Linked DNA regions of Homo sapiens: regions 1, 3 and 4 are each linked to region 2. The links come from fine-mapping of genetic effects on gene expression. A gene starts in region 2. Each other region holds a variant in brackets. All regions are shown on one strand. Distances are between the middles of the regions. Region 1 overlaps GRAMD1A (GRAM domain containing 1A). Region 2 holds the start of GRAMD1A (GRAM domain containing 1A). Region 3 has its middle 16 kb from the start of ZNF792. Region 4 overlaps ZNF30 (zinc finger protein 30).

Region 1 (8,171 bases), 26 kb before region 2:
CGCAGCGGCCCGGGAGGCGCCCGCTGCACCGGCCTCTCCGGGTGGCGCAGGGACCGCGACTTCTGGGAACGGGGAGGGTGGTCTGTGTGTCTCCGACCCCGCTGGGGCTCTGAGGACCACCCCCCCCCCCCCACCTTCCCAGGGAGTCTGGAAAGGTCACCCCCAGAGTCACAGGAGGACTTAGAGCGCAGTTTGGGGGCCGGGTTTCCGACTTCAAATGATGGAGGTCATCCTCAGGAGTTCCAGAGGGCGAACCTCCAAGTTATCTCCCCTGAGCCCTGATATCCAGGCCTGGGGGTCAATGTGCAGGGACCCCAAGTAGGCATTAGAGGAGGGTGGGGGGCCGTCAGGCTAGGACTACAGCTACAATCCGGACCTCACCCAAGCAGGCGGGGCACCCTGGAGAGAAGCAGCCCCGGGAATCTGGAGGTGCTGTTTCAGGAGGAGGACCCCTTCGTGATCCCCTGCACCCATTTATGTCCCTGATGTCACCTTCTACCCCTCTTTCCTCCCACTCCACTCTGGCTGTTCAGGCCCTCCTGCTGTTCCCAACACAGGGAACCCGTTCCTGCCTCAGGGCCTTGGCCCCAGCTCTCCCCTCTGCCCCGGCTCTCCCCCCCTGCCCCGCCCCTCTCCGTGGGCCTCCATGGCTCCAATGTCACCTTCGTCAGGTCTTCTGTGTCCCTTCAGGGTAAACTGCCTTCCCCGCTCCTAACCTGACCTCCTTTACTCTTTACCTCTTGTTGAGTGTTTTCCACAGCAGCCTCACTACCTGACATTATGTTCTTTTTTTTTTTTTTTTTTTTTTTTTTTTTTTGAGATAGGGTCTGGCTCTGTTGCCCAGGCTGGAGTGCAGTGGCTGATCTCGTCTCACTGCAACCTCCGCCTCCCGGGTTCAAGCGATTATCCTGCCGCAACCTCCCAAGTAGCTGGGAGTACAGGTGTGCACCATCATGCCTGGCTAATTTTTTTATTTTTTAGTAGAGACAGGGTTTCACCATGTTGACCATGCTGGGATTACAGATGTGAGCCGCCCCCCGCTATCCCAGCACTTTGGGAGGCCAAGGGGGGCAGATCACCTGAGGACAGGAGTTCGAGACCAGCCTGACGAGCATGGTGAAACCCCGTCTCTACTAACAATACAAAAAAAATTAGCTGGGAGTGGTGGTGGGCACCTGTAATCCCAGTTACTTGGGAGGCTGAGGAAGAATCGCTTGAACCCGGGAGGCAGAGGTTGCAGTGAGCCAAGATCGCATCACTGCACTCCAGCCTGGGCAACAAGAGCGAAACTCCGTCTCAAAAAAAAAGGCCGGGCGCAGTGGCTCACGCTTGTAATTCCAGCATTCTGGGAGGCCGAGGTGGGCGGATCACGAGGTCAAGAGATCGAGACCATCCTGGCCAACATGGTGAAACCCCATCTCTACTAAAAATACAAAAATTAGCTGGGCGTGGGGGCACATGCCTGTAGTCCCAGCTACTCAGGAGGCTGAGGCAGGAGAATCGCTTGAACCCGGGAGGCAGAGGTGGCAATGAGCCGAGATCACACCACTGCACTCCAGCCTGGTGACAGAGTGAGACTCCATGTAAAAAAAAAAAAAAAAAAAAAAAAAAAAAATCTCCCAGGTGAGGATATTGTCTTGTGTCTCTTGCACCTTGAACTGTTCCTGGCACATTGTAGGTACTCAATCAATATTTGTCAAACAAATAAATGAATGCCAATGTTCACTAAGTCCTTGGGATTTGCAGAACCCACTTCTACTGCCCCAAACCTTCAGCAAGTTCTATTATCCCCATTTTACAGATGAAGAAACTGAGGCTGGGAGAGGGCCGTGCCCCTGCCCAGAGTCATGTAGCTGGCCTAGGATGGATGTGGAATCCTGCCCCAGCAGTGGTGAGTGGCCTGTCCTACCAGTAGGTTCTGCCAAATTGAGAGAATGGAGATGGGAGTTCTGGGCTGTCAGGACCAGGGTGGGAGTGAGACTCTCGGCTGAAGGGTCACTACCCAGATCCTAGCCTCCAATTCCGGGTGGGGTAAGGTCTCAGAATCCCCCTGGCCCAGCCCTGCCAGGCAAGAGGAGCCAGGGTGTGGGGCAGGACCATGGCAGAGGGGCAGGGAGCCAGGGACATCCGACACCTCTGTGGTCTAGACTTTTACGCCAGCACCTTCTGAGCTGTGAAATTCCCCTGCAGAGAATAACCCTCTTGCTGTTCCGGGCCCTTCCACTGGTGGGGGATGGTAGGTGAAGGCACAGTGAGGACAGGCCTCAGCACTGGACAGGAGGCACCTCACGGCCCTATAAGCTATGTTCAGTGAGCACCTACTATGTATGGGCTTGGTGCTGTTCTAAGCATTCTAAGCACTTTACTAACATTAGCTCATTTAATTTTTCCTATAGGTGGTATTATTATTACACCCATATTACAGATATAGAAGACTGAGGCTCAGCATGGGTACCTTGCCATGATCACACAACTAGAGGATAGGAGAGGCTGGCTCTGCCTCCTATGCCACTCCTGATCCACTCTCCAAACCCTCCTCCAGTCCCCTGCTCCAAGCCATCAGTTAGGATGATTCTTATAGCCGGGGGTGTGACATGCCAAAGGTGTCTCTACCCCACATACTCCCTCTGGAACCAGGACAAGGTTTGCGTGAGGTGGACCTGGGTTCTTTCTGGACCAGGGACTTTGCCTCCAAGCTCATTTCCTCATCTGTAAAACAGGAATCCAACCAACGTCAGCCTGAATGGGCTGTGGTGGGGTCCTGAGGGGGTTAGGACCTTGCATGTAAATGTGGAGACCCCAGGGGTCAGGCCTGGAGTCTGCCTCCCTGCTGGGTAGCCTCGGGCGTGTACATCTTTGTCTCCACCTCATGGAATCACTGTGAGAATAAAATGAACATCAGATCTTGGCACAGAGCTGGGTACGTACGTACTTGGTACTCACTACGCGAGTTACTTTTTTCCCTCTATTTTTATGCAATAAGTGTAACATTTATTGAATACTTACTCCATTCCATCTGTGCCGGGCCCTGTTATAAGTAGCCACATTTATGAACTCCTTGAACCTATAATAGTGGTTCTCAAAGTGTGGTCTGGGGCTGGGCGTGGTGGCTCACGCCTGAAATCTCAACACTTTGGGAAGCTGAGGCGGGAGGATCGCTTGAGGCCAGGAGTTCAAGACTGGCCTGGGCAACACAGTGAGATCCCATCTCCAAAAAGAAATAAAAAATTAGCCGGGCGTGGTGGCTTACACCTGTAGTCCAAGCTACTCAGAAGGCTGAGGTGGGAGGATGGCTTGAGCACAGGAGGTCGAAGCTGCTGTGAGCCATGTTTGTGCCACTGCACTCCAGCCTGGGCGACAGAGACCCTAACTTAAAACAAACAAACAAAAAACCAAAGTGTCGTCTGGGATGGCACCATGAGCAACTCCTGGGAACTCGTTATAAAGGCAGAATCCCAGCCCTGCCCCAGACCTACTGAACCAGAAATTTGGAGGGAGGGGCCCACAGTCTGTTTTTCATCAAGCTCTCCAGGAGATTCGAATGCAGCTCAAGTTTGAGAACCACTGCCTTCTAACAACCCTGAGAGACAGCTACTGCCATTCTACCCATTGCACAGGAAAGCTCACTGGAGCTCCAGGGGGCTGACCTGCTGCATTTACACCACTGCTAGGAAGCAGGATTTGAACTCCAGCTACCACGGTCTGTCCCCGGAGTTCCTGCGTTGACCTCAGATGATGTAAAGCTTGTGTAAGATGCTGCGGGAATTCCAGATCGTTTCAGTGACTATGGCCCCAGAACACAGACAGAGGTCCCCTCCCCACCATGGCAGGATCTGAGTGCAACAGGAGGCTCCCACCCACTCCCAGGGCCCCACAGGCACAGCCACAGCCACTTCTGACCCTTTATTGGGGCACTGTCGGCCCCAAATAAATATAATACATTAAACCCAGAGCTGAGGGAATCGTGCACCCCAGGAGGCGCCCCCCACAACCTCAGCCGGGCAAAATAAGTTAGTGGGGGGCCTGCCAGAGGCCGGGCCAGCTCCCTGGTCTAAAGTGCATCTCGGTTCCGTGG[T/GGATTCCGTGGT]CCCCACGTCTGCACAGCCCCTGGTTGGGCCGTCGGGAGGGGCGGGTGGGAGATGCCTGGCGCTCACACCGTGCCAGCAGTGGCCGCCGAGGCTCTGTGTGTCCATCTGTCCATGTGGGGGAACAGCTGCGTGGCCGGGGTCCTCAGGAAAAGCTGTCATCGGGCCGGGGCTGGGTGTCAAAGGGAGGGTCTGAGACTGTGATGCCTTGGTGCAGCTTCTCCAGCGAGAACTTCATCTGCGGGGAGGAGGTGAGCAGGGTCGGGGGTGAACGCTGGAGGCTGGGGGGTGATGTCGCCCACCCCCACCTTGCCATTGAGAAACTGAGGACGGTCTAGAGGCCATACTGCCCCACCCCAGGGTCCCTTGGTGAAAAGAGCACAGCCATGCTGCACCCAGTTTAACTTCTCAGAGGCAGCAGAGGAAGGGGCTTAGTGTGTGCCTGTGACCCCGATGGCCTAGGTTCAAATCCTGGCTCTGCTGCTTGTTACCTCAGTTAACCTCAGGCAAGTCCCGTAACCACCCTGAGCCAAAATCCCCTCATTTGAAATACGGGTCTATAACACATCTGCTCCACAGGATTATTTCAGGGTTCTGAAGAGCACTGAGAACCTGGTGTACACTAAGTGCTCAGCACATGTTAGCTGTCACCATTACCCACTCTGTGACCTCGGGCAAGCTCCTGAGCTCCTCGAACCTCTGGATGCCTCATATCGCCTACCTATGTATAAAACCGGGATAACGGCCGGGCACAGTGCCTCATGCGTGTAATCTCAGCACTTTGGGAGGCTGAGACCGGTGGATCACTTAAGGTCAGGAGTTCAAGACCAGCCTGGCCAACATGGTGAAAGCCCGTCTCTACTAAAAATACAAAAATTAGCCAGGCGTGGTGGCGGGTGCCTGTAATCCCAGCTACCTGGGAAGCTGAGGCACGAGAATCGCTTTAACCTGGAAGGCAGAGGTCGCACCACTGCACGCCAGCCTGGGTGACAGATCGAGACTGTCTCAAAAAAACTGGGATAACAAGAGCATCTTCTCAAAGGCTGGCTGTGGGGATAAAGCAGTCATGCTTAAAACCTAGAACAGCCCAGCTGCAGGTAAGTGCTCAGTCTACATCTACTGTGAGCACCAATCTGTGACGTCAACTCTGCACCCTTAGCAGTTTGACAGAGAGGAAAATGATAAAAATTTAACTCAGGGCCAGGCGTGGTGGATCACACCTGCAATCCCAGGACTTTGGGAGGCCGAGGCGGGAGGATTGCCTGAGGCCAGGAGTTTGAGACCAGCCTGGGCAACATGGTGAGACTCTGGTCTCTACAAAAAATTTTAAAATTGGCCAGGTGTGGTGGTGCCTGCCTATAGTCCCAGCTACTCAGGATGCTGAGGCAGGAGGATCACTTGAGTCAGGAGTTCGAGGCAGCGATGAGCCATGATCGTGCCACTGCACTCCAGCCTGGGCAACAGAATGAGATCCTGTCTCAAAAGAATAAAATAAAATAACGCAGGATGGGGGGCCCTGCCTACCCTCTCTATGAGTGATGGGGCCTCAGCCTTCATCTCCTCCCCACCCCATCCTGCCCCGCCCTTTCCAGTGTGAGCCTCTCCCAAGCTTGATTTCGGGGGGCAATGAGACCCCTAAAGATGAGCCTTCTGATATGGAAGGGTCCAATGAGACAAGATTTTCACCGTCACCCACAACTTCAGCTCTGATGGCCTTGGAAATGCAGGCAATGCCAGACTCTGTTTCCCATCCGCTTTCCCCCTCGACACCTTCCCCGAGTGCCTAACACTTGCTCTGACCCACCACAACTGCTGGCCTGACACTTGCTCTGACCCACCGCAACTGCTGGCCTGACACTTGCTCTGACCCACCGCAACTGCTGGCCTGAGTCTACTGGGGCCTGAGGGAATTGTCGTGTGATGACATCACATTTATTGGGCATCTGCTTTGTCCCTGGCACTAGGCTCAAACTCAGGACAGCCAGCCCACATCCAGTGTTTCCTGCAGGCCTGGCACCACTCCCAATGTCAACTTGTCTCATCCTCACAACAGTCTTTGAGGTAGCATCAGTCATTATCCTGTGCACAGAGGAGTCCACGGCCACCATGGCAAAATCACTTGCACGAGGTCACACACCGGAATTGGAACCTGGTTGTCTGAGTAGACATTGTCCCTGAACTACACTGGGTGTCTGGGTCCACTCCGTTTTGGAGATGAGACCTCAGGTCCTTTGGAGAGTCTCTCCCCTTCAGACCATGTGACCCCTTAGTTACCCCAGAGTGGGGTAGCGGGTAGAGGGACCACACGTGGCCTGCCCTGGCTGTTGTGATGTGTCAGGGGTAGGCCTGGGACCCCAGCAGCCAATGAGAGTAAGCTCCGTGGTCCCCTGTGGGGGGAAAAGGGTGGCCTCCAATGAAGCCAACCCTGGAGATGGGCACAGGGCAGAGTGGGCACGAGAGACTGACTCTTACTGCCATTGAGTGACCAAACCCGGCCGTGCCTAATGTGAGACGCCTCTGGACTTTTCTCCAGGACGTGAGCCAATCAGTTCTGTCTTCCATCCATGCTTCCATGCTTTCCCCTGCAATGCTGTGGGGTGGGGACTCTGAGCGGCTTCCTCATTTTACAGAGGAGGACACTGAGATCCGGAGAGGGGAAGTGCCTGCCGCACGGTGGGGTTTCAACACAGGACCCTGCAGCCCCGCAGCCCCGAGCCCTGCCCGAGCGGCGCCTCCTACCTCATCCAGGAGCTCCACGGAGGCCCGCAGGATCTGCCTCCACTTGTGCACCTCCACGCTGTGGAATTGCTTCTGCAGCGCCAGGATCTCGGCCCACTCTGTGGCCGTCTGGGGGAACTTGCTGTGGGGATGCCAGGCCTGAGCAGGGCCTTGGCCTCCCCCGATGTGCCCAAGCCCCCCCATTTCCCCAGGCTACCCACTCACCCCTTGGCCAGGGCCAGGCTGTGCCAGGACTCAAAGGTGTGGGCTGTCCTTTCCAGGGACCAGAGGCGGTAGAAGAGCAGGACGTTGAGGGCGATGAGGATGATAAGGCTGGGGACAGGGGTCAGAGGTCAGGATTCCTGGGGTCTAGATGCTCTGAACACCCCCAAACAACTACATCTTGTAGGGACACCTCTATCCCCCATTGCAGAGGAGGAGAATTAGGCTCAGAGAGGATGAGAGACATGCCTAGGGTTGCACAGTCCATAGCAGGGAAGTCAGTGTTCAAACCCAGGTCTGTCTGATGCCCATACCCTTGACTGCCATGCCAGGCCACCTCCCTGGGGGAGCTGGGGGGCATGGGGTGGGGAGAAGAGGCTGCAGCAGGGGTGGGGTGCAGGGAGGGGAGGGCAGGGGGAGGACTCGGGACCCTACCTCACACAGATCCTGCAGCAGCAGCAGTGAGGGGAGACAGAGAGATGAGCGCCGCCTGGCCTGCCCCCGACACCCCCAGCCCTCCTCACCCGGGGCAGCTCTTGGCTGAGAGCACCACGCCCCCTCACTGGATGAGAGCTGAGAGCTGAGGCTCAGAGGCTGAGCATGTAGCTGGCCTGACCCTCACCTCGCAGGGTCTGCTCAACCCCGGGATCCTGCTTCTGTTTCCTCCCAGCGTCCTGCCCGCCAACTCCTGCAGGCTTCTGGGCAGGAGTGTGGGTTCTCCCTGCCCAAGCCCTTAGCCTACGCGGTCTCCACTCTCTCAGGACGCCCATCCTGACTGCCCCCTCTGGCCTGGGAGGAAGCCGCCGCTGGCCTCCCAGGGCTTCCCCACTCCCAGCCCCAACCCCTCTGCCCATACCTCCCCCATCCCAGCCCGGATCACTCTGGTCTGGTGTGAGGTCTATCTTTTCCTCAAGGTCACTGCGGTGTCCTCAGCATCGCCCAGCTTAGGAGTGGGCACAGAGAACATAATGTCCATAAATGACCTCACTTGTTAGGCACACCTCTCCCTGTGCACCTAATTCCAGAATCTTTGTGTGCCTGCTCCTCCAGAAAGCCCCCCTTGATCCTTGGGTGAGGTCAGGCCCCTCTGATCTCCCATAGCCCCCCCCGGCTCTGCTGTTCTAGCAGGGAAGGCTTCTCCATGACAAACCGGCACAT
Region 2 (5,000 bases):
GATCGTGCCACTGCAGTCCAGCCTGGGCGACAGAGCGAGACTGCGTCTAAAAGAAAGAGAAAAAGGAAAAGAAAAAGTAAAGTGGCAAGGGGTGGAGGTGTCAGTGGCTGTAGCTGGTGGAGAGCCCTGATGCTCACAGTCAAGCAGGACTTGGGAATAATGCAGCCGAGCAGGGCGTGGATCTCGAGGACACAGTGGCCAGGTAGTGGAATAATGCGTGGCACATGCTATACTAACTGTAACAGGTGGACAACGTCAGTTATCATTATTGCCTCCAAAGTGCCCTGGGTACTCCCAGGGTCTTAGAAGGGAGGGTTCCAAGCCTACAGAGAGCCACAAGGGGTCTCACACTGTTCACACACACACAAAACCACAGAGGGTCTCAGCTGTACACAGAGAGGCCTAGGCACCACTCAATACTGTCACAAAGGAATACACAAGGGAATGTTCACACAAAGATGGAATCAAATTAAGTTACAGCCACACTCACAGAGCCCCAGACACACAACAATGTCACAAATGTAACTTACATTGGCACACAGAGCTAAATGAGAGTTTCAAGCCAGGCGCGATGGCTTAAGCCTGTAATCCCAGCACTTTGGGAGGCCGAGGTGGGTGGATCACCTGAGGTCAGGAGTTCGAGATCAGCCTGGCCAACATGGTGAAACCCCATCTCTACTAAAAATACAAAACTTAGCCAGGCGTGGTGGCACACGCCTGTAATCCCAGCTACTCAGGAGGCTGAGGCAGGAGAATTGCTTGAACCCAGCAGGAGGAGGTTGCAGTGGGCCGAGATCGTGCCACTGCACTCTAGCCTGGGCGACAGAGCCAGACTCTATTTCAAAAGAAAAAAAAAAAAAGAAGAGCGTTTCAGAGCTAAATTACAGGCATATGCAGGCACAGAGGGTCATGGTAGAACCCAGAGCCCCAGGCACACTTGTACACACACCACTAAGTCACAATGGGACGCACACTGGTAACTTACAGCAACGCTTGGAGCTACAGATAGAATTAATGGTAAAACACACACAGCCCAAGAAGGATCAGAGCTGCTACACACGGTAACTCCAGACACATGTACAAACACTCCAACGTCACACTCAGACACACAGGGGTAATTTATATTTGCACAGGGAGCTACAGATGGAATGAGACACAACACGCACACAACCAGCTGCTCACAGCCACAGATTTGGAGCCCCAGACACACACAGGTAACTTACAGTGACACACAGAGCCGCGGTCAGAATTAGTGGTTAAGTTACACGCAGGAACTCTATCAGAGGCCCAAAGCTGCTGCAGGCTAGCAGCCCCAGACACACGTACACACACTTGCAAGACAATTCACAGTCGGAAGCACATGCGCCCACCTGGACCGGAAGGGGAGTAAGAAGTCAATTCCGAGCACACAGGACCCCCCGCCCTCCATGACCTCAAGCACGCGGTCCTGGAGAGACGCAGGAAGCCCCCACCCCCGGCAGCCCCGAGACCCGCAACAGCCAAGGACGGTGGGAGGGGGCCCAGGCAGGAGGGGGCTGCCTACTCCCGGCGCGCCCAGGGCTCCGCGGCCTGTGGGCCTGGGCTGGTCCCGATCCTGTCTCCATCCCAGGCCGGAGCCCCAGTTCGGCCTCGCGCTCACCCCTGGCTTACCAGGCAGGGGGTTGCCAGGCCTGAGGGCCCTCCCCGCCAGATGAACCCGCGGGCCCCCAGCCAAACCCCGCAACCCAGTGCGTCGCGGGCCGGCAGTGGCGACCCAGACCCCGGGCCCTGCCCTGCGTCCGCGCCCCACTCCCCAGCTGCACCCCTCGCCCGGGGGCCCCCTGCCCCGCCCCCACCCCGATCGCCCCGGCCAGAGCCATGTGCAGAGGCCCCCGACCTCTGCAGCGGCCGCTCCGCCCCCTCCCCAAGCCCGCGGCGCCCCCTCCCTCCGGTGGCCTCCCCCGCGCGCCCGGTCCCTGAGCTCTAGTCGCCCGGTCCTTACTCGAACATGGATGCGGCGCGGTGGGCGCGCCCCGGGCGCAGGGCAGGGCAGGGCAGGGCAGGGCTGGGCTGCGCGGGGCTGGGCTGCGCTGGGCGTCCCCGCAGGGCACCGGCCTGGCCTTCCGCGGCCGCCGCCCCCACCCGACCCAACCGCCCGCACAAAAGGCCGGAGCCGCCGGAGGCCGCCGCGGCGTCAGCGACACCCCCTTCCTTCCCCCGCCCCGCCGCGTCACGGCGCCGCCCCCAGCCCGGGAGGGAAGGCGGGGAGGGGCCGCAGAGGCCTAGAAGGAGGGAGAAGCCGGGGAGAGAGGGACTGGACAGAGAAGGGAAAGCAGAGGGGCAGAGAGACAGAGAAGGAAACAAAGAGACTTTATTAAAACCAAACATCGTGGAGGCAGCTGCCTGCCCGCAGGTTGGGGAGCCCCCTCCCCTAGTACCTAGAAAAGGGTCCCTAGCAACTACTATGCCCCTGGCCAGAAGCTCCTGGACCTCCCAGGGAGGAACCTGAGAGCCGGGGCGAAGGTGGGGGAGGACTGGAGATGCTGGGAAACCGAGGTGTATGTATGGGGGAGGGGGCCTGAAGCTGGCGGGAAGGGGTGGGGCCGGTTGGCCGCCTCCTCCTTCCCTCTCCCAGTCTCTGAGCCCGGGTTCCTGGTCCCAGGAGGTCCGGTGCCTCCGTTTCTAGGGACTTCCCAGTTTTGGTCAGCCAGGCCAAGTACCAAGTCAGAATCCAGCCTCCCTGGCTCTTATCTGTGCTGAGACCTTGCGCTCATCACCCCAGTGCTGGGAGTCCCACTAACTCGGTGGTAAGGGCTTTTCCCGGGGACAGCGCAGGAACGGGCAAAATCAGTCCTTTTACGGAAGGAGAAGCCCGGCCTCTAAGATGGGAAGTGACTTGTTGGGGTCACCTGGTAGGTAGGCGGCAGAGTTGGATTCGATCCTGCTCTGACGCCATAACCTGCGTCCCCCCTCCCCCGCCCCGTCTGCAAGAGGTCAGAGTCAGGTGGTGTCCTGGACTCCTGGCCCAACCACACAGAAATGCGAGTCCCACCTCACAGCTCCGGGGCTGTGGCTCCCCAGCGCTCTCCAGGGTACGCTGTCCCCGCCTCTTTTGAAAAAACTCCCTTCCCAACCCTCTCCATCAACCCTTCCCCTCCTCCTGCAAAAGAAGCCCACCTGACTTCTCCATTTTGATGAATGGCAGGCCCAGAACTTCAGAGTCTTTTCTGACCCTCTCTTTTCCTTCACACCACATCCAATCCGTCACAAACTGTGGGCTCCACGTATAAAATCAATCGCTCCATTCTAAACTCTTCTTCCTCCGCTGCCCACGCCCTGGCCCAGCCTCCATCCTCTCCTGCCTGATCTCCCTGCTCCCATCCCTGCCCCTACTGTCTGTTCTCACCTGCAGCCAGAGAGAGCCTGGGACCACCTGAGTCAGTTAACTACCCTCCTGGCTCAGAGCCCTGCCCCAGCTGTACCTCACTCCAGGTAAAAGCAAAGTCCTCACCTTGGCACCCAAGGCCCCTGTCAGCTCTCTGACTTCAGCTCCTCATCTCCCCCTGGCTCACACCCCCCATCCAGCCTACCCGCTGTTCTTCTAACTCACCAGGCACCTTCCTGCCTCCTACCCCAAGACCTTTGCACTGGTTATTCCCTCTGCATGGACAGCACCCCCCCTATCGCCGTGCCCTACCTCTCATGCTAACCCCCACCTCTAAAACCCCCATCCACCATCTGACATTTGCTGCCTCCCACCGGCCAATGGAAGAGAGGCCCTCCTCCCACCACCTTCCTCTGTCCAACTGATCTCTTTAGATTTCTCTTTGGTCTGTTTCTTCTAGTGTAATGCTTTTAGTTTTTTAATTAAATAATATTTATTTCAGGTCAGGCGCGTTGGGTCACGCCTGTAATCCCAGCACTTTGGGAGGCCAAGGAGGGTGGATCACCTATCAGGAGTTCGAGACCAGCCTGGCCAACAGAGTGAAACCCCATCTCTATCAAAAATACAAAAAAATTAGCCAGGTGTAGTGGCTTGCACCTGTAATCCCAGCTACCCAGGAAGCTGAGGCAGGAGAATTGCTTGAACCCGGGAGGTGGAAGTTGCAGTGAGCCAGGATCGCACCACTGCGCTCCAGCCTGGACAACAGAGCAAGACTCCATCTCAAAAAAAAAAAAAAAAAAAAAAAGGAAGAAAATATAACAGTCCTCTATGTCCCCTGTACCTATATAGAATAGATGTGGACATTTTGCCATTTTGCTTCAGGTCCTTTTTTTAAAAGAAATAAATGATTACACTTACAACCAAAGGCCTGGCTCCCCATCCCTCCTTTCCCTTCCCGTGCCCCCCAAGGAGCCTTCTGCCTGCCATGCAGTTGGTGTGTTTCCTTCCTGCGCTTTTTTTTTTTTTTTTTTTTGAGACAAGGTCTTGCTCTGTCGCTCAGGCTGGAGTGGTGCAGTGGCTCGATCTTGGCTCACTGCAGCCTCCACCTCCTCGGTTCAAGCGATTCTCTTGCCCCAACTTCCTGAATAGCTGGGATTACAGGCATGCGCCACCATGCCTGGCTAATTTTTGTATTTTTAGTAGAGATGGGGTTTCACTGTGTTGGTCAGGATGGTCTTGAACTCCTGATCTCAGGTTAATCTGCCCGCCTCGGCCTCCCAAAGTGCTGGGATTACAGGCATGAGCCAGCACGCCTGGACCCTGTGTACTTTTCTGTCCTTTTTCTACATCAGGAGGCATCCACCAACACTATCACCTATTATCCAGTATCTTTTTAAAAAGATACACGATTAGGCTCCCTCTGTTTCATTTGCAACTTGCTGTCCCCCATTATCATTGTTTCTGCGATTTCTCCACATCCATGCACAAAGCTCTGCTTCCTAAACTTTAACGCTTATGGAGTGTCCCTTGTTGGAAGAAACCACAGTGGCTGCTTGTTCTATTCAGGGTCGGTAGAGTTCTTTCCTCTTCCCCCTATGGCCCTGAACCTCCCATTTCCTGTCTCCTTGTACCAGAG
Region 3 (8,171 bases), 20 kb after region 2:
AATAGCTTTGATGTGCTGGGAGAAAACACATGTCCATCTAGAACTGCAGGCCCAAGAATCATTCAAGGATGAAGATGAACTGAATACACTTTCAGAGAAAAACTGAAATATTTTGTATGAACATATCCCCCTAAAGGAAATTCTTAAAAAATTAGGTCAGAAGAAAGAAAAGCAATATCAGAGGGAAAATATGAGCTGTAAGATGGAATAACAAGCAATGAAAATGATAAATGTGTGGGTAAATCTAAACGGACAGTGATTGTTTTAGTCCATTTTTTGTTGGTATAACAGAATATACCACTATAAATTACAGACTGGGTAATTTATAGTGAACAGAAATTTATTTAGCTCATGGTTCTGGAGGCTGAAAAGTCCAATACCGAGTGGGTGGCATCTGGTTGGCTTCGGGGGAGGGGCTAGTGCTGCATCATAACATGATGGAAAAGCAGAAGAGAAGCAGGTGTGTGTCAAAGGGGCAAAACTTAAGGGGAACCTCACTTTATAACAGCCTGCCCTTGCAATAACCAATCCAGTCCCAAAAGAGTGAGAACTCACTGCCTCCAGAATTAACCCAGTCTCGAGAGAATGGCATCAGTCTCTCTTAATGACCAAATCACCTCTTAAAAGTCCCGTCACCCAACACCACCACACTGGGGACCAAAGTGGGAGGATCTCTTAAGACCAGGAGTTTGAGATCAGCCTGGGCAACATAGTGAAACCCTATCTCTATTAAAAAATTAACAGGGCATGGTGGTACAAGTGGTACAAGCCTGCAGTCCTAGCTACTTGGGAGGCTGAGGCAGGAGGATTGCTTGAGCCCCGGAGTTTGAGGCTGCAGTGGGCTATGATAGTGCCACTGCACTCCAGCCTGAGTGACAGAGCGAGAATTTGTCTCTTTTTTTTTTTTTTTTTTTGAGATGGAGTCTCTCTGTGACGCCCAGGCTGGAGTGCAGTGGCTCAATCTCGGCTCACTGCAAGCTCCGCCTCCCGGGTTCACGCCATTCTCCTGCCTCAGCCTTCCGAGTAGCTGGGACCACAGGTGCCCACCACCACGCCTGGCTAATTTTTTGTATTTTTAGTAGAGAAGGGGTTTCACCGCGTTAGCCAGGATGGTCTCGATCTCCTGACCTTGTGATCCGCCCGCCTCGGCCTCCCAAAGTGCTGGGATTACAGGCATGAGCCACCGTGCCCAGCCGCTGAGAATTTGTCTCTAAAAAACAATGACAAACTAAAAGGAAAACTTCTGGAAAGCAGAATAAAAGACAAAAGTGGATAATAAGAGACAATATAAGAAAATTAGAGGATAAATTCAGAAATTCCAAAAAAGAGAAAACAGAAACTCCAGTAGTGAAGAAAGTATTAAAGAAATGTCCCCATAACTGAAAGAAATTTGAAGAGCCTGCAGAGTGCTCCACAATTGTTAAAATATGGTAATAATATTTCAGAACATCAGTTCTAGAGGTTTCCAGAGAGAGAAAAAAAAAAAGCCAAACAGATCACAGTCAAAGGATCACAGGTGGGAGGACATTGGACACTCTGGGGAAAAACTGCTGTTTAACCTGGACTTCTATCAAATTATCACTCAAGTGGAAACAGGGTTAGACATTTTCAGACAAACAAAGTCTCAAAAAGTTTCCTCCCAAACAGTCTTTCTCAGGAAGCTCCTGGAAGATATTTTCACCCTAAACAAGGGAGTAAACCAGGAAAGAGAAAATGGAGGACCAACATGACTAGATGGTGAAGTGAAGTCCCAGCAGGAGAATCATGCAGCTGGCTTGAAGAAAGTATAGATTGGAGCAGAAGGACAGAGATTGGAGTTTAAATTATTCAAAGCAGAGAAAAGGACAAATCTCAACTACAGTTGTAAAGAAAAGCAAAAAGTTTGCATGAGAAAGAAATGTAAGGACAGCGCACGACATAGCTCATCTCTAACATTTTCCTGATCTCCATAACATAATCAGTGAACTTAATAAAAATCATGACATGACAATTCTGGGAGGATTGAAGGGGGGGGAAGGAAATATGTGTGTGGGAGAGGAGTGAAAAGAGCGAATTCATCATCTTCTAGTAAAAAGTAAGTTGATAATATATAACATTCAAATTCAAGACTGTATATAAACCTGCTATTTATAAACGTGGAGCCGGGCACAGTGGCTCATGCCTGCAATTCCAGCACTTTGGGAGGCTGAGATGGGCGGATCACTTGAGGTCAGGAGTTCGAGACCAGCCTGGCCAACACGGTGAAACCCTGTCTCTACTAAAAATACAAAAATTAGCCTGGTGTGGCGGTGCATGCCTGTAATCCCAGTTACTTGAGAGGCTGAGGCTGGAGAATTGCTTGAACCCGGGCGGCAGAGGTTGCAGTGAGCGGAGATGGCACTGCTGCACTACAGCCTGGGCAACAGAGTGAAATTCCAACTCAAAAAAAAAAAAAAAAGGAGATGAAAATAGAACTATGCACTAAAAGAGAGAGTGGCTAATTCTGGAGAGGGGGATGGGGTGGGACGGCATGGAGTAGAGAAGAGAGCTGCTGGGTTTAGAAATCTTGTTGAATTCTTTGACTTTTGCTATTGTGCATTTATATGACTGATTAGAATTAAAATTTTAAAAGTTTGCAACTGGTAGAGCCAAGAATTTTGAGTTTAAGAATCCCAAACTGATGGAAATACTTATAATACACACAAAAATTTTTGTTTACGGATGGCCTAGGCAGTATAGTTTGCAATGAGGACAAAGAAAAAAAATGCGTTGTGTTTGATATTTACAGGATATTATTAATGGGACATTATAATTAATTGTTTTATTTTCCCCACTGCTGACATGCCTGTGTGAATTTGCTAAGCTAGTGGTTTGATGACTTATTTGTAATGCACTTTTAGAGCATCGTAAACACCTAATAAACACATGTGGAATACAGGTGTTTCAAAACGATAAGTAACAAAAAAGAGACACATTTTATTGTATATAAACTATCCTTCAATAATACTGATTAAAATGCAAAAGAGATATTAGAATATGCAAATTATTCAGCAACATAAAGCAATAATAGAAGAGCCAAAAGACGAAAATGATTGATTATGGGATGTGGATGCAAGGTAGAGGACAGTTATTTATTTATATGTCTTTTATTGTTTGTTTGTTTATTTATTTATTTTTTGTGACAGGGTCTTGCTCTGTCACCCAGGCTGGAGTGCAATGATGCCATCCCAGCTCACTGCAGCCTTGGTCTTCCATGCCCAAGCCATCCTCCCACCCCAGCCTCTTGAGTAGCTGGGACTACAGGCACATGCCACCATGCCTGGCTAATTTTTGTATTGTTTGTAGGCATGGAGTCTCACCATCTTGCCCAGGCTGGTCTCAAAACCCTGGGTTCATTCCGTCTGCCTGCCGGTCTCCCAAAGTGCTGGAATTACAGATGGGAGCCACTGGACCCAGCCATGTCTTTTAATGCTGCATGATATTTAAATGTTAAATATGTATATTTTAGCACTACTTCATATATACTCATTACATAAGGTAAGTACAGTTATAAAGTAAATAAAGGCTGGGCGCAGTGGCTCATGCTGTAATCCTAGCACTTTGGGAGGCTGGTCAGGAGATCAAGACCAGCCTGGCCAACATGGGGAAACCCCATCTCTACTAAAAATACAAAAATTAGCTGGGCAGGGTGGCACATGCCTAGCTACTCGGGTGGCTGAGGCAGGAGAATCACTTGAACCTGGGAGGCGGAGCTTGCAATGAGCCGAGATGGCGCCACTGCACTCCAGCCTGGGCAACAGAGTGAGACTTCATCTCAAAAAAAAAAAAAGTAAATACGGCACATAGATGTGTTATGCATAATATATATATGTATGTATGTATGTATGTATGTACGCTGGGTCTAGAATTTGAAAGGCACCTGAAAATATAATGCTTAATTTTTCAAACACTTATTTTGTGATTAGAACGAAGACAATGCATAGTGGATGACGTTACTGCCTTTCTATTCTATCACTATCTATGCACCATGTCCAAAAGGTCATGAACTGCCACTGGGTGAAGGCAGATCTCGGAGTCTGTTTGTTATATGCAGGGACTCAATGACACTCACTGGCTGCAGTACACCCGTGAGGTAGGAGGTGGGCTCAACTCCAGAGGTGAGGCTCAGACACCTGACCAAACTGAGAACTAGCTAAAACAGGGACGGGAGGGAAGCAGTTTTCCATAAGACACACCCACCAGTGCGCCATGTCAGTTTACCATTGCCATGGCAACACCGGAGAGTCACCACCCCTTTCCATGGCAATGATATAATGACCCCAAAGCTACTACCCCTTCCCTAGAAATGTCTGCATAAACTGCCCCTTAATCTACGTGCAATTAAATGTGAGCATAAATCTGACTGCAGAACTGCTCTGAGCTGCTGCTGTCTGCCTACGGGACCGGGTAGTCCTGCTCTGCAGGAGCAGTCATGGAGCTGTAACACGGCTTCTTCAATGAGCCTCTTTTCTTCTACCCTACCACTGGCCCATACTGCTCACCCTTGAATTCTTTCTTGAGCAAAGCCAAGAACCCTCACATGCTAAGCCCCAGTTTGGGGGTCACCTGTCCTGAATCAAGTTGGGAGAACTTGAAGATTCCTCCAGAAAGAAATATGTAAACTGGATGGTGCTCTCCTCATCATGCTGAGAGCTCTCTCTCCCCTGGTGCTCGGCTCCTGGCCACCTCTGCCTCCAGCCAGACTAGGTGCTCCTAGTCAGACCTGATCCTCAGCAATTTTGACCAAAGATGACTCTTGGTACTGAAAGGCCACCAGGGTCTGCTCTTCCACACACCTAAAGTTGAGGCAGTGATAGGGGAATGCAACTGGGAGTGAGGTCCCATTGTCAGGGTCCTTTCCAACCTCCTCATCTTGGCATC[G/A]AAGGGTTCCGTGTTGACCCTACCCTAGCTAAACACCCAGCCAAATATCCCCCTGCTCTTCAGGGTGCTCCCTCAGCTCCACTCACTCTGTCTCTCACACACCACCAGAAGGTACCCCTTAAAACCTGTGCGATCCACCTTCCTGCAATGCTCTTCCTTCCTCTACAAATCCACCCGCTTTCCAAAGTCCAGTTTCAGGCCCTTGTCTTTCTTCCTGGAACAAAGTGCTCATTTGAGGTTTTGAACAGCTGGAGCACTTCTGCTTCATGCAGACCTTTGGTGCACCTAGCGAACATCAACTGTGTTTTAACACCCAGTTTAGCAGCAACTTCCATTGTAAATACTTCAGCAATAATTCTCTCCAAGAATTCTTTCTCTCCTTGGTTCCCAATGAGATAGGTTTTTTCCATTATAGTAATTAACGCTTTGAATCATAATAAAGTGTTTACCACCATTTGGAATCTCCTGGTAGAATAAGAGTTCCCCAGGGAAAAGTACTTGGAATTAATCACATAGCATTGATGCCATAAAAGCTTGCTGAATTAAGACATTCCTTTGTATGGCTTGGCATTGTGGCTCACGCCTGTAATCCCAGCACTTTGGGAGGCTGAGACGGGAGGCTCACTTGAGGCCAGGAGTTCAAGACCAGCCTGGGCAACATAGCAAGACCCCGTCACTAGCAAAAAAGAAAAGAAAAAAAATTAGCCGGACATAGTGGAGGGCACCTGTGGTCTCAGCTAATGGGGAAGCTGAGGCGGGATGATCGCTTGAGCTCAATAGGTCGAGTTTATGGTGAGCTATGAGTGCCACTATATAGTGAGTGCCACTGCACTCCAGTCTGGGAAGCAGAATGAGACCCTGTCTCAAAACAACAACAACAATAACAACAAATGCTCCTGTATTTTTCTCTCACTCTCCTATTCATCCTTCAGCACCCAGTCTAACCACCACCTCCTCTAGAAAGCCTTTCTGATTGCCTAGAGCAAGGTGGGTTCTTCCATCATATCTGATGGCATCTGGCTTCTTTATATGGATTATGAAAGTCACCATTTACCTGGGCAATTATTTGTTAAGCGCCCTTCTCTTTCCCTCCACTGTGCAAACCATCGGGACAAGGGCAGGCTGTGACCTTGTCATAAGATTTCCAGTGTACCAGCCCAATGTTTGGCACAAGGCTGGTGCTCAGTGAATTGCTTGTGACATGGAAGAATTAAAGTGTGACTCTTACATACCCAATGACACTTTGCTTCCCAGAACTAAATGTATTAGCACAGAATAAATTTATTTTTTTATTATGAAAAATTTAAACATTCTCAAAAGTAGAGAGAAAAGCATAATGAGCTGCCACGTGTCCATCATCCAGCTTTGACAATTACCAATATTCTTGCCAATCTTCTGATGCAGTTTTTTTAAATCAACTTATTGAGGTATAATTTACACACACAATGTACTCATTTTGAGTGTATACTTCAATGGCTTCTAGCAAATGTGTGCATTCATAGTCCCCAAAAGTTTCCCTGTGGCACAGAATTGGGTGATTTTTTGTTTTTTTGAGATAAGATCTTGCTCTGTCACCCAGAGTGGAGTGCAGTGGTTTGATCATAACTCACTGCAGCCTCCACCTCCTGGGCTCAAGCGATCCTCCCGCCTTGGCCTCCCAAAATGCTGGCATTACAGGTATGAGCCACTGCATCCAGCCTGGCACGAAGTTTTGTGAATACAAATCCTTTTTTTTTTTTTTTTTTTTTTTTGAGACAGAGTTTTGCTCTTGTTGCCCAGGTCGGAGTGCAATGGCATGATCTCGGCTCACTGCAACATCTGCCCCCCGGGTTCAAGCGATTCTCTGCCTCAGCCTTCCAAGTTGCTGGGATTACAGGTGCCCGCCACGATGCCCGGCTAATTTTTTGGATTTTTAGTACAGACGGGGTTTCGCCATGTTGGCCAGGCTGATCTCGAACTCCTGACCTCAGGTGATCCACCAGCCTCGGCCTCCCCGAAGTGCTGGGATTACAGGCGTGAGCCACTGTGCCAGGCTGTGAATACAAATTCTTAATAAATGTTTGTTACTTTGTTCACGTGTGATCCAAGATGAGTTGAAGGAAGGGGCTTGGGCCTTGAAGAAGTAGGAGAGTTTAAAGACTCTGGGGGCCACGTGAAGGGAAAGATTTGGGCTCTTACAGCCTCTTCATTTCCCTGAGACCCAACCCCAAATTGGCCCCAACTTATTCAGTCAGAATATTCTTTATCAACACCATCATGAAAGTTTCTTCCCTTGTAACCTGAGAATGGAAAAGCCAAGTTTCCATTTCCTTCATGGTGGGATGCAGTCCATGAAGCTCTCCAGCCTGTGACCCCTTTCTAAGCCTTCCCATTGCCAATCAAATGCCCACTAGGGGTAGCCTCTTCCTCTACCATCACCTGCCCCTCATAAGGTCCTAAGTATGGACCCAGAGCCCATACACAAGGCCTACTCCACTGTGGACTGCAGACCCTGGTTCTCAAGTCCAAGGGGCAGAAGGGGCTGAGCTGGAACCATGCCCCTTGGCCACAGAACCAACCTGGATGAGCCCTGCAGACCCTGGGAGCCAGCTCTCAGGGAAGAAAGTGGAGGAGGGTGGGAGTACAGCAATGGGGAGAAGGGCAGGGGGAGCTGGCCAGTGCAGGGTGGGCCTGGGGTATGGAGCCTCAGAGCATTCTGATGAAGCAGTGTTATAGGACCAACAGGCTCACACATCCACTGTGCAGTGACAGACCATTCCACTGAGACAGCAGGGTTGGCAGCAGAGAAAGAGTTTCATGATCACAGGGCGCCAAGTGAGGACATGAGAGGAAACCCTCAAATCCATCTCCCCAAGGAGTTCTGGGCTGGCGATTTTAAGGGGATCATGGAAGGACGAGGAGCTGGAGAATTGGGGTGGTTGATTGCTTGGGGTTAGGGGGATGAAATCAGGGTGTGAAAACTGCATTCTTTAGTGAGTCAGCAGCTCCTGTGGGTTCCTTCAGACCAAATGGCATCAGTGGTTTCATCAGTATACAGAACCTGAAAAAATATCTCAAATGGAAAACTTAACATTTCTTTTGTTTGTTTGTTTGTTTGTTTGAGGCAGTTTTGCTCTTGGCATCTAGGCTGGAGTGCAGTGGCACCATCTTGGCTCACTGCAACCTCTGCCTCCTGGGTTCAAGCGATTCTCCTGCCTCAGCCTCCTGAGTAGCTGGGATTACAGGCACCTGCCACCATGCCTGGCTAATTTTTGTATTTTCAGTAGAGACGG
Region 4 (8,171 bases), 52 kb after region 2:
AGTCTTGGTAGATTTTGTGTCTCACAGAATATATCCATTCTAGGTCAACCAATTTGTTGGCATACAATTGTTCATAGCTCTCTTGTAATTTTTTTTATTTATATAGACTCTATCATAGTGTCTTCATTTTAATTTCTAATTTTATTAATTTGAATCTTCTTTTTTTTGTCATTTCTAACTAAAATTTCGTCAATTTTGTTAATCCTAACAACCAACTTTTGATTTTGTTGATTTTCTCTATTGCTTTTATATTCTCTAGTTATCTCTGCTCTAATCTTTATTATTTCCTTCCTCCTGCTAAATTTTTGGCTTAGTGTTTTCTTTGTTTTTTGTTTTGTTTTTTTTTTGTTTTGTTTTTTTTTTGAGACAGAGCCTTGCTCTGTTGCCAGGCTGGAGTGCAGTGGCACGATCTTAGCTCACTGCAACCTCTGCCTCCCAGGTTCAAGCAATTCTCCTGCCTCAGCCTCCTGAGTAGCTGGGATTACAGGTGTGCACCACCACACCTGGCTAATTTTTGTATCTTTAGTAGAGACAGGGTTTCACCAAGTTGGTCAGGCTGGTCTCGAACTCCTGACCTCATGATCTGCCTGCTTTGGCCTTCCAAAGTGCTGGGATTACAGGCATGAGCCACCGCGCCTGGCCAGTTGTTCTTAAGTTTCTTAAGTTATAAAGTTTTTCTTAAGTTTTTTTAAGTTGTAAAGTTAGATTTTTGATTTGAGATCTTTCTTCTGTTTTAATATAATCTTTATAGCTATAAATTTCCTACTTAGGCACTGCTTTTGTTGTATCCTACAAGTTTTTGTATATTGTTTTCCTTTTCTTTCATCTCTATTTTATAATTTCCTTTGTGATTTCTTTGATATAATGATTATTTAAGAGTGTCATTTGCTCTCTGCAAATTTGTGAATTTTCAAGTTTTCCTAACCTCTTGTGATCAGGGAAGATATTTTATATGATATATATCTTTTAAAATCTATTGACCCTTAATTTATGGCCTGACATGGTCTATTTTGGAGAATATCCCATGTGCAAGTGTATTCTATTGTTATCGTGTATTCTATATATTTTCTGTTAGATCTAATTGGCTTATTGTATTGTTCAAGTGCTCTATTTCCTTATTGGTCTTCTGATTGTTTTATTTATTATTGAGAATGGGTTATTGAAGTCTCTAACTATTGTTGTAGAACTGTCTATTTCTTCTGTTAATTCTGTGTATTTTTCCTTCATATATTCTGATGGTCTGTTATTAGGTATATAAATGCTTATAATTGTTATATGTCCTTGCTGTCTTGAATCTTTTCTTAATATGTAACGTCTCTCTTTGTCTCATGGAACCACATTTTGATTTAAGGTCTATTTTGTTTGATACCAGTATGTCCATCCCTGCTTTCTTTTGGTTACTATTTGCATGGAATATCTTTTTCCATTCTTTTACTTTCAATCTATTTCTGTCTTTGGATCTAAAGTGAAACTTTGTAGACAGCATATAGTTGGATTATCGGTGTTTTTTTTGTTGTTGTTGTTTGTTTTTTAACTCATTTTGCCAGTTTCTGTGTTTTGCTCTGAGGATTTAATCCAGTTATATTTAAAGTAATTACTGATAAGGAGGGACTTACTTCTGTCATTCTGCTATTTATTTTCTATGTGATTTTAGCTTTTTTGTCCCTTATTTCCTATATTACTCTCTTTTTGTGTGTTTGATTTTTCAAATGTGAAACATTTTAATTTCATTCTTGTTTCATTTTGTGTATATTCCATAACTATTTTCTTTGTGGTTACCATGGAGATTACATTTCACATCCTAGATTTGTAATACTCTGATTTGAACTTTTACCAGCTTACCGTTAATAACACAGAAAAACTCTGATCTTATACAACTCCATCCCCAACACTTGTAGATAGTAATGTCACAAAATTACCTCTTTATACATTGTGTGTCCAAAAACATAGATTAATAATTTTTTAACACATTCGTCTCTTAAATCACATAAAAAACAAAAAGTGGAGTACAAACCAAAGTTACAATAATATGAACTTTAAAATTTTCCCAGGTATTTGCCTTTACTAGAGATCCTTATTTCTTCTCATGGCACTGAGTTACTGTCCAGTGTCCTTTCATTTCAACTGGAAGGACTCCCTTTAGCATTTCTTGCACAGCAGTTCTCTTGGTAACGCATTCCCTCAATTGGGAATGTCTTCATTTCTCCCTCAGTTTTGGTGGATAGTTTTGCCAGATTTAGGAGTCTTGGTTGTCCGTTCTTTTCTTTTAGCACTTTGAACATGTCAGCCCACTGCCTTCTGCCTTCTGTCTTCTGCCCTCTAAGGTTTCTGATGAGAAATCTGATAATCTTAGTGAGTATCCCTTGAATGTAATGAGTCACTTCTTTTTTGCTGCTTTCAGTATTCTCTTTATGTCTCTGTCTTTTGACAGTTTGATTATAATGTGCCTCAGCGTGAGTCTCTTTGAATTCATCCTTCTTGGAGCTCATTGAGCTTCTTGGGTGTTTATATTTATGTCTTTTTACATCTGTATAGTGTGTTAAAATAAAAAAAAAGTCTTTCATCAAATTTGGGTAGTTTTGGCCATTTCTTAAAAATAGTCCCTCTTCCTCCTTGTTTCTCTCTTTCCTCTGGAACTCCCACCTTTTCTTCTATTAGCTGCATGTTGGTTTTTGTCTGTTACAAATTGAGCTACTGTAATCATTAGTGTGTAGGTCTTTGTGTGGGAATATTCTTTCTCTTCTCTTGTGTTATTATCTAAAAGTGCAATGCCTTTGTTGCAGGGTAGGTGAATATTTTACATTTTAAGAAACTGCCAAATTGTGTTCTAAAGTTATTATACCATTTTACATCCCCTGCCTCCCTGATTGTGAGCAAGAGTTCCAGTTTCGTCACATAATCACCAACAATTGCTATGATCTGTGTTTTTAATGTTTATAATGCTACTAGGGATGGAGTAATAGTATCTTATTGTAGTTTTAACTTGCATTTCTCTAAGGCTTCATGATTTTGAGCATATTTTAAATCATGTTTTTATTTGCCACCCATATAACTTCTATGGTAAAATGTCTACTGATATCTCTTGCCTATTTTAAAAGTAAATATTAGTTGATATTGAAATAGTAAAGAAATTTTTTGGAACTGCAGTCATTTATTAATAATGCCAGTGACTTATTTGTTTTGTAGGGTAATTTTGAATATTGGAAGAATATTTCCTCAAAATTTTGTGCTGTTCACAATGGGAAACTAGAGACATGAAACACTTTTAAGTTTAATCTGAATTATTAACATATTCTCTGCTTTCTTAAGTCTACCTGGTCAATAAAACAACAGATCAAGTTCTGGTTTGTAGTGTTTACCAATACCCTAGGTGTAAATACTTCTGTCTTGGCCAATTTCAAGCTACAACATGATGTCTCTGAATATGGAGTTGGGAAGATATGTGCAATAGCACGCCATTGTATTCTGTTTCCACTGAATAGATGCAATAAACGTAAATAACCTCTAAAGCATAGATAATAGTAAAATAATTAGGAAATGAGGATTTTTTTAAGTATTTTTTTTTCTTTTTAGAAAAACAGCTTTATTGAAGTCTAAACTACACATATTTCACAGGTACAAGTTTTGGTACATGTTTATAGCCATGAAATTAAAGGTTTTCTTGGGCTCTTTGTAATCTCTTCCTCCTTATCCACCTACC[C/T]GTCTTTAGGAAACCACTGATCTGCTTTCTGTCACTCTACATTTGTTTACATATTTTAGAATATTACATTAATCTGGAAGCAGCTTAGGTAGGTCAAGGTTGAGAATCCCCCATGAAATTGCAGTTAAGCTGTCTCTGGAGCTACAGTCTCAGGAAACTTGCTGGAGGCTGGAAGATTCAATTCTAATCTCTTTTCCATGGCAGTTGACAGGAAGCTTTAGTTCCTTGCCACATGGATCTCTCCATAGGGATGCTCGTCACAGGGATTCTTTCAAACAGAGAAAGTGATCCAAGAGCAGGAGAGTCTACCCAAGAAGGAGACCAGTGTCTTCAATAACCTAAAATTGGAAGTTACATGTTCTCATGTTTTCTGTTTTATACGGGCTTTACAGATCAACCCTTGTAAAATGTGTGAGGGGTACCCAAGGGTAAGAATTCCAGGAAGTAGAGATTTGGGGTTCTTTTTAGAGTTTACCTGCTACAATCACGTTTTACCTTGTTTTAAAGTCTTTTTTTTTTTTTTTTTTTTTTTTTTTTTTTTTTTTTTGAGACAGAGTTTCAGTCTTGTTGCCCAGGCTGGAGTGCAACGGCACGGTCTTGGCTCACCGCAACCTCCGCCTCCCAGGTTCAAGTGATTCTCCTGCCTCAGCCTCCTGAGTAGCTGGGATTACAGGCATCCGCCACCACGCCTGGCTAATTTTGTATTTTTAGTAGAGATGGGGTTTCTCCATGTTAGTCAGGCTGGTCTCAAACTCCCGACCTCAAGTGATCCGCTTGCCTCAGCCTCCCAAAGTGCTGGGATTACAGGCGTGAGCCACTGGGGCACCTGGCCTTAAAGTCTTTTAATGGTAAATTGCATTGATTTTCAAATATCAAGTGAACTTTTATATTTTGAGGGTAAATCTACATTTTCTTGATGTGTTATCCTTTTTTTGTATTGTTGGGTTTGATTTGCCAAAATTTTGTTGAAGTTTCTATACCTATGTTCATGAAGGATATTGATCTGCGGTTTTCTTGTAATGCCTTTGTGTGGTTTTGGTATCACTATAATAGCTTCACCAATTAAGTTGGAAAGCATTCCTTATGCTTCCACTTTTTTGGAAGAGTTTCTGCATTCTTAGGTTTTCTTCCCTAAATGTTTGGTAGAATATACCACTGAAGCCATTTAAGCCACAGTTTGCTTTGTAGGAAGGTTTCTAATTACAAATCTGATTTTAAAAATAAATATAGGGATATACATTTTTATTTTTCTTAAGTGAACTTTAGTGGTTTGTGTCTTCAAAGAGAGTTTGTTCATTTTATTTTATTTCCCAGATTTATTGGCATAAATGGGTTCATGATTTTCCTTTCAATATCTGTAGAATCTGTCATGTCTCTCATTCCCAATCTGGGTAATTTATGTGCTTCTTTGTAACTTGATAATCCTTGGCTAGAGGTTTATCAGTTGTATTGTTCTTAAGGCTTTTGGTTTCACTGATTTTCTTCACAGTTCATTCTGTTTATTTCATTGACTTCCATTTTAATCTTTATTATATACTCTCTTCTGCTCATTTTGCATTTCTCTTCGTTAGTTTTTTAATGTGGAAACTGATACTCTTATTTTTGGATATTTTTTCTTTTGTTTAATGGGTTTACCTAGGGTAAACCTAGCCTTCAGTTCTGACAATTTTCTCCTGTATTTTCTTCTGAACATTTTGTACTTTTATATTTTATATTTTAGTCTGTGATCCATTTTGAGTGAATTTGTGTTTAAAGTATGGGATTAAGTTGATGTTCACATCTTTTGTCTATGGACGTTCAATTGCTCCAGCATTATTTGCTGAAAAGCCTTATCTGCCTTCATTTATTTGCTTTTACTTGTTTTTCAAAAATCAGTTGGTTATATTTCTTTGCACGTTTCTGGGTTATCTATTCTGTTCTTTAGACCTATGTTGTTTATCCCTCCCCAGTACCACAGTGTCTTGTATCCTTAGCTATATAATAACCCATAACATCAGACAGGGTGATTCCCCCCAGCAGTCTTTAAAATGTGTCCACATTGACATCGACAGACACATTTGTTAGCGCCCTAAGAGATCCCTTCACTGTCAAGGCTTTGGCAACCTCTTCTCATGTGTCCTTGAGTCTCTAGACCACCTCTGATGGCCAGAAGTTTCCCAAGGGCTTCTGATACAAGAAACTGCCCTTCTCAAAATCATGCTATGCCTCCATTAAAACAAACTGACTAGCTACATACTAGGCTCTTCTAGAAATAGAGACTTTCACAGACCTAATACTTAGCTGCCCATTTGTTTTGAGTCAAGAAACAGCAACCTACAAACTTGGCATGGCTACCGAGGCCTCCTTAATACAGGATAGAGCCAAATCTGGGCCCTCTGGCGTATTCCATCTACAGGAGAGGTGGTCTCCTTTGTCCTCAGTCTCTTGCCACATGCCATGGTACTGGAAGAAGTCACCCCCTCTCCTAGACTGGTTGGCTACCTGGGGAGACCCTTGGGATTAACTAAGTAAACAGCAATAGCAGTTTGCAGACTGTATGAACGACACTGCCAACCATCATAAATATTGATTTTTTGTGTGTTGTTTTTTAAATTAGTGGAATCTTGCTACTTTGCATCTTAGACAGGATGTCCCCAGCAGTCAACACAATTGGCCAAACTTCAGGCAGTCATCTTAGCACTGGATGACCTGGTCAACAAATGGCCTCATCTTCACATTTATTGCAAACTATTGGGCCATTGCCTAAGAGTTGTGCACTTCAGAGTAAAAACTCTAGCAATCTCCTACCTTACAGATACCTAAAATATAAACGTAAATCACACATGTCTCTAGATATACTATGGCCACAATACAAGGCCAAATAACTCCTTATTTCCTTCAGTGTTAGATATTACTGATAATAACAAAGGCATACATTTCCCTTCCCAGAATACACAATTCTGGGTTCTCGGTAAAGCTATCCAATGGAACTCTCATGTCCCTGATAGGTGCCAGATAGCCAATTTATTCTATTTTACTTGTTATTTTTTTGTGGAGACAGAGTCTCTTTACATTGCCCAGGCTGATCTCGAGCTCCTGGGCTCAAGTGAACCTCCCACCTCAGCCTCCCGACCTCCCATTTGAACTGTGCCCAGCTCAGATGCCCAGTTTAATTGAGGTCTCAATTTTTCTCTTTTTCTTTGAGACAGAGTCTAGCTCTGTCACCAGGCTGAAGTGCAGTGGCATGATCTTGGCTCACTGCAAGCTCCACCTCCCAGGTTTATGCCTTTCTCCTGTCTCAGCCTCCTGAGTAGCTGGGACTACAGGTGCCCGCCACCACACCCAGCTATTTTTTTTTGTATTTTTAGTGGAGATGGGGGTTTCACCGTGTTAGCCAGGATGGTCTTGATCTCCTGACCTCGTGATCCGCCTGCCTCAGCCTCCCAAAGTGCTGGGATTACAGGCTTCAGCCACCAAGCCTGGCTTTTTTTTTTTTTTTTTAATAAGAATGTAGGTTCTATTATCACCATTTTAAAACAATGCTGTAAGGTGATAAGTGTAGTGCCTAATATCTAACTGGCTGCAAGGCAGTGGAATAACAATGATGATAGTTAACGTGAGTGCCATGGCTAAAGGCTTTCATTACATTGTTAACTGGTTTTAAAAAATAATGAATTATTTGAAGTTCAGCAGTGGTTTAGGAGGTCCAAGGTTTTTTATTCACTTGTTCATACAATCACATTAGAATAAATGCATCATATAAAAGTTCATGCTGTCAGTGCTGTAACCATTAAGTAATAACGTTTCCCACTTTTTCTGAATGGTCCACCAGTATAAATATTGGTATTACAAACCTATAAATGACAAAGGAATATTCTTATGTTTTCTGAGTTATATTATGAATTATAAGATGAGAATAGACCTGCCAATATTCTTCACATTTGAAAGTTTCCTACCAGCATAAATTCCCCGATGTTCAACAATGTTTGAGCCACACACGAAGCACTTCCCACACTCCTCAGACTCTTAGGGTATAACACTCATATGTTTTCTCAGATGCACTTTAAGGGCTGAACTGTATCTAAAGGTCTTCCCACATTTTTTGCATTTAAAGGGTTTCTCACCAGTGTGTACCCGCTGATGTTCAGTAAGGAATGAATTAAGTCTAAAGGCCTTCCCGCATTCCTTACATTCAAAAGGTTTCTCACCAGTGTGAACACTCTGATGTCCAATAAGTTGTCCATAAACAGTAAAGGCTTTCCCACATTTGTTACATTCATAGGGTTTCTCCCCAGTATGAATTCTTTGATGCTGAACAAGGTATGAGCCAGAACTGAAGGCCTTGCCACACTCCTTACACTCATAGGGCTTCTTACCAGTATGGATTCTGCTATGTTGTACAAGGTACGAGGCTCGACTAAAAGTCTTTCCACATTCCTTACATTCATAGGGCTTTACATCAGTATGAATTTTCCGATGCTGTGTGAGATGT

What was found.
Region 1: its variant is fine-mapped to the expression of GRAMD1A in whole blood (INTERVAL, PIP above 0.99).
Region 3: its variant is fine-mapped to the expression of GRAMD1A in whole blood (TOPMed, PIP above 0.99).
Region 4: its variant is fine-mapped to the expression of GRAMD1A in whole blood (TOPMed, PIP above 0.99).

What each region holds. Positions count from the first base shown.
Region 1 is chr19:35,022,189-35,030,359 of GRCh38, reverse strand. It overlaps GRAMD1A (GRAM domain containing 1A), which reads right to left. Exons shown (of 20, transcript NM_020895.5): 17 at 7,449-7,460; 18 at 7,017-7,124; 19 at 6,813-6,933; 20 at 3,891-4,311. The coding sequence ends at 4,219. Among named protein-coding and RNA genes, the nearest start is that of SCN1B, 4.2 kb to the left of the region's middle. The variant T/GGATTCCGTGGT (reference allele first, on the strand shown) is at 4,076.
Region 2 is chr19:34,997,468-35,002,467 of GRCh38, reverse strand. It overlaps GRAMD1A (GRAM domain containing 1A), which reads right to left and starts at 2,145. Exons shown (of 20, transcript NM_020895.5): 1 at 1,982-2,145. The coding sequence starts at 1,989. RefSeq lists silencers at 1,531-1,660, 1,931-2,310 and an enhancer at 4,085-4,760.
Region 3 is chr19:34,976,293-34,984,463 of GRCh38, reverse strand. No RefSeq gene overlaps it. Among named protein-coding and RNA genes, the nearest start is that of ZNF792, 16 kb to the right of the region's middle. The variant G/A (reference allele first, on the strand shown) is at 4,900.
Region 4 is chr19:34,944,373-34,952,543 of GRCh38, reverse strand. ZNF30 (zinc finger protein 30) reads right to left here. Exons shown (of 5, transcript NM_194325.3): 5 at 7,376-8,171. The coding sequence ends at 7,706. Among named protein-coding and RNA genes, the nearest start is that of ZNF792, 16 kb to the left of the region's middle. The variant C/T (reference allele first, on the strand shown) is at 3,701.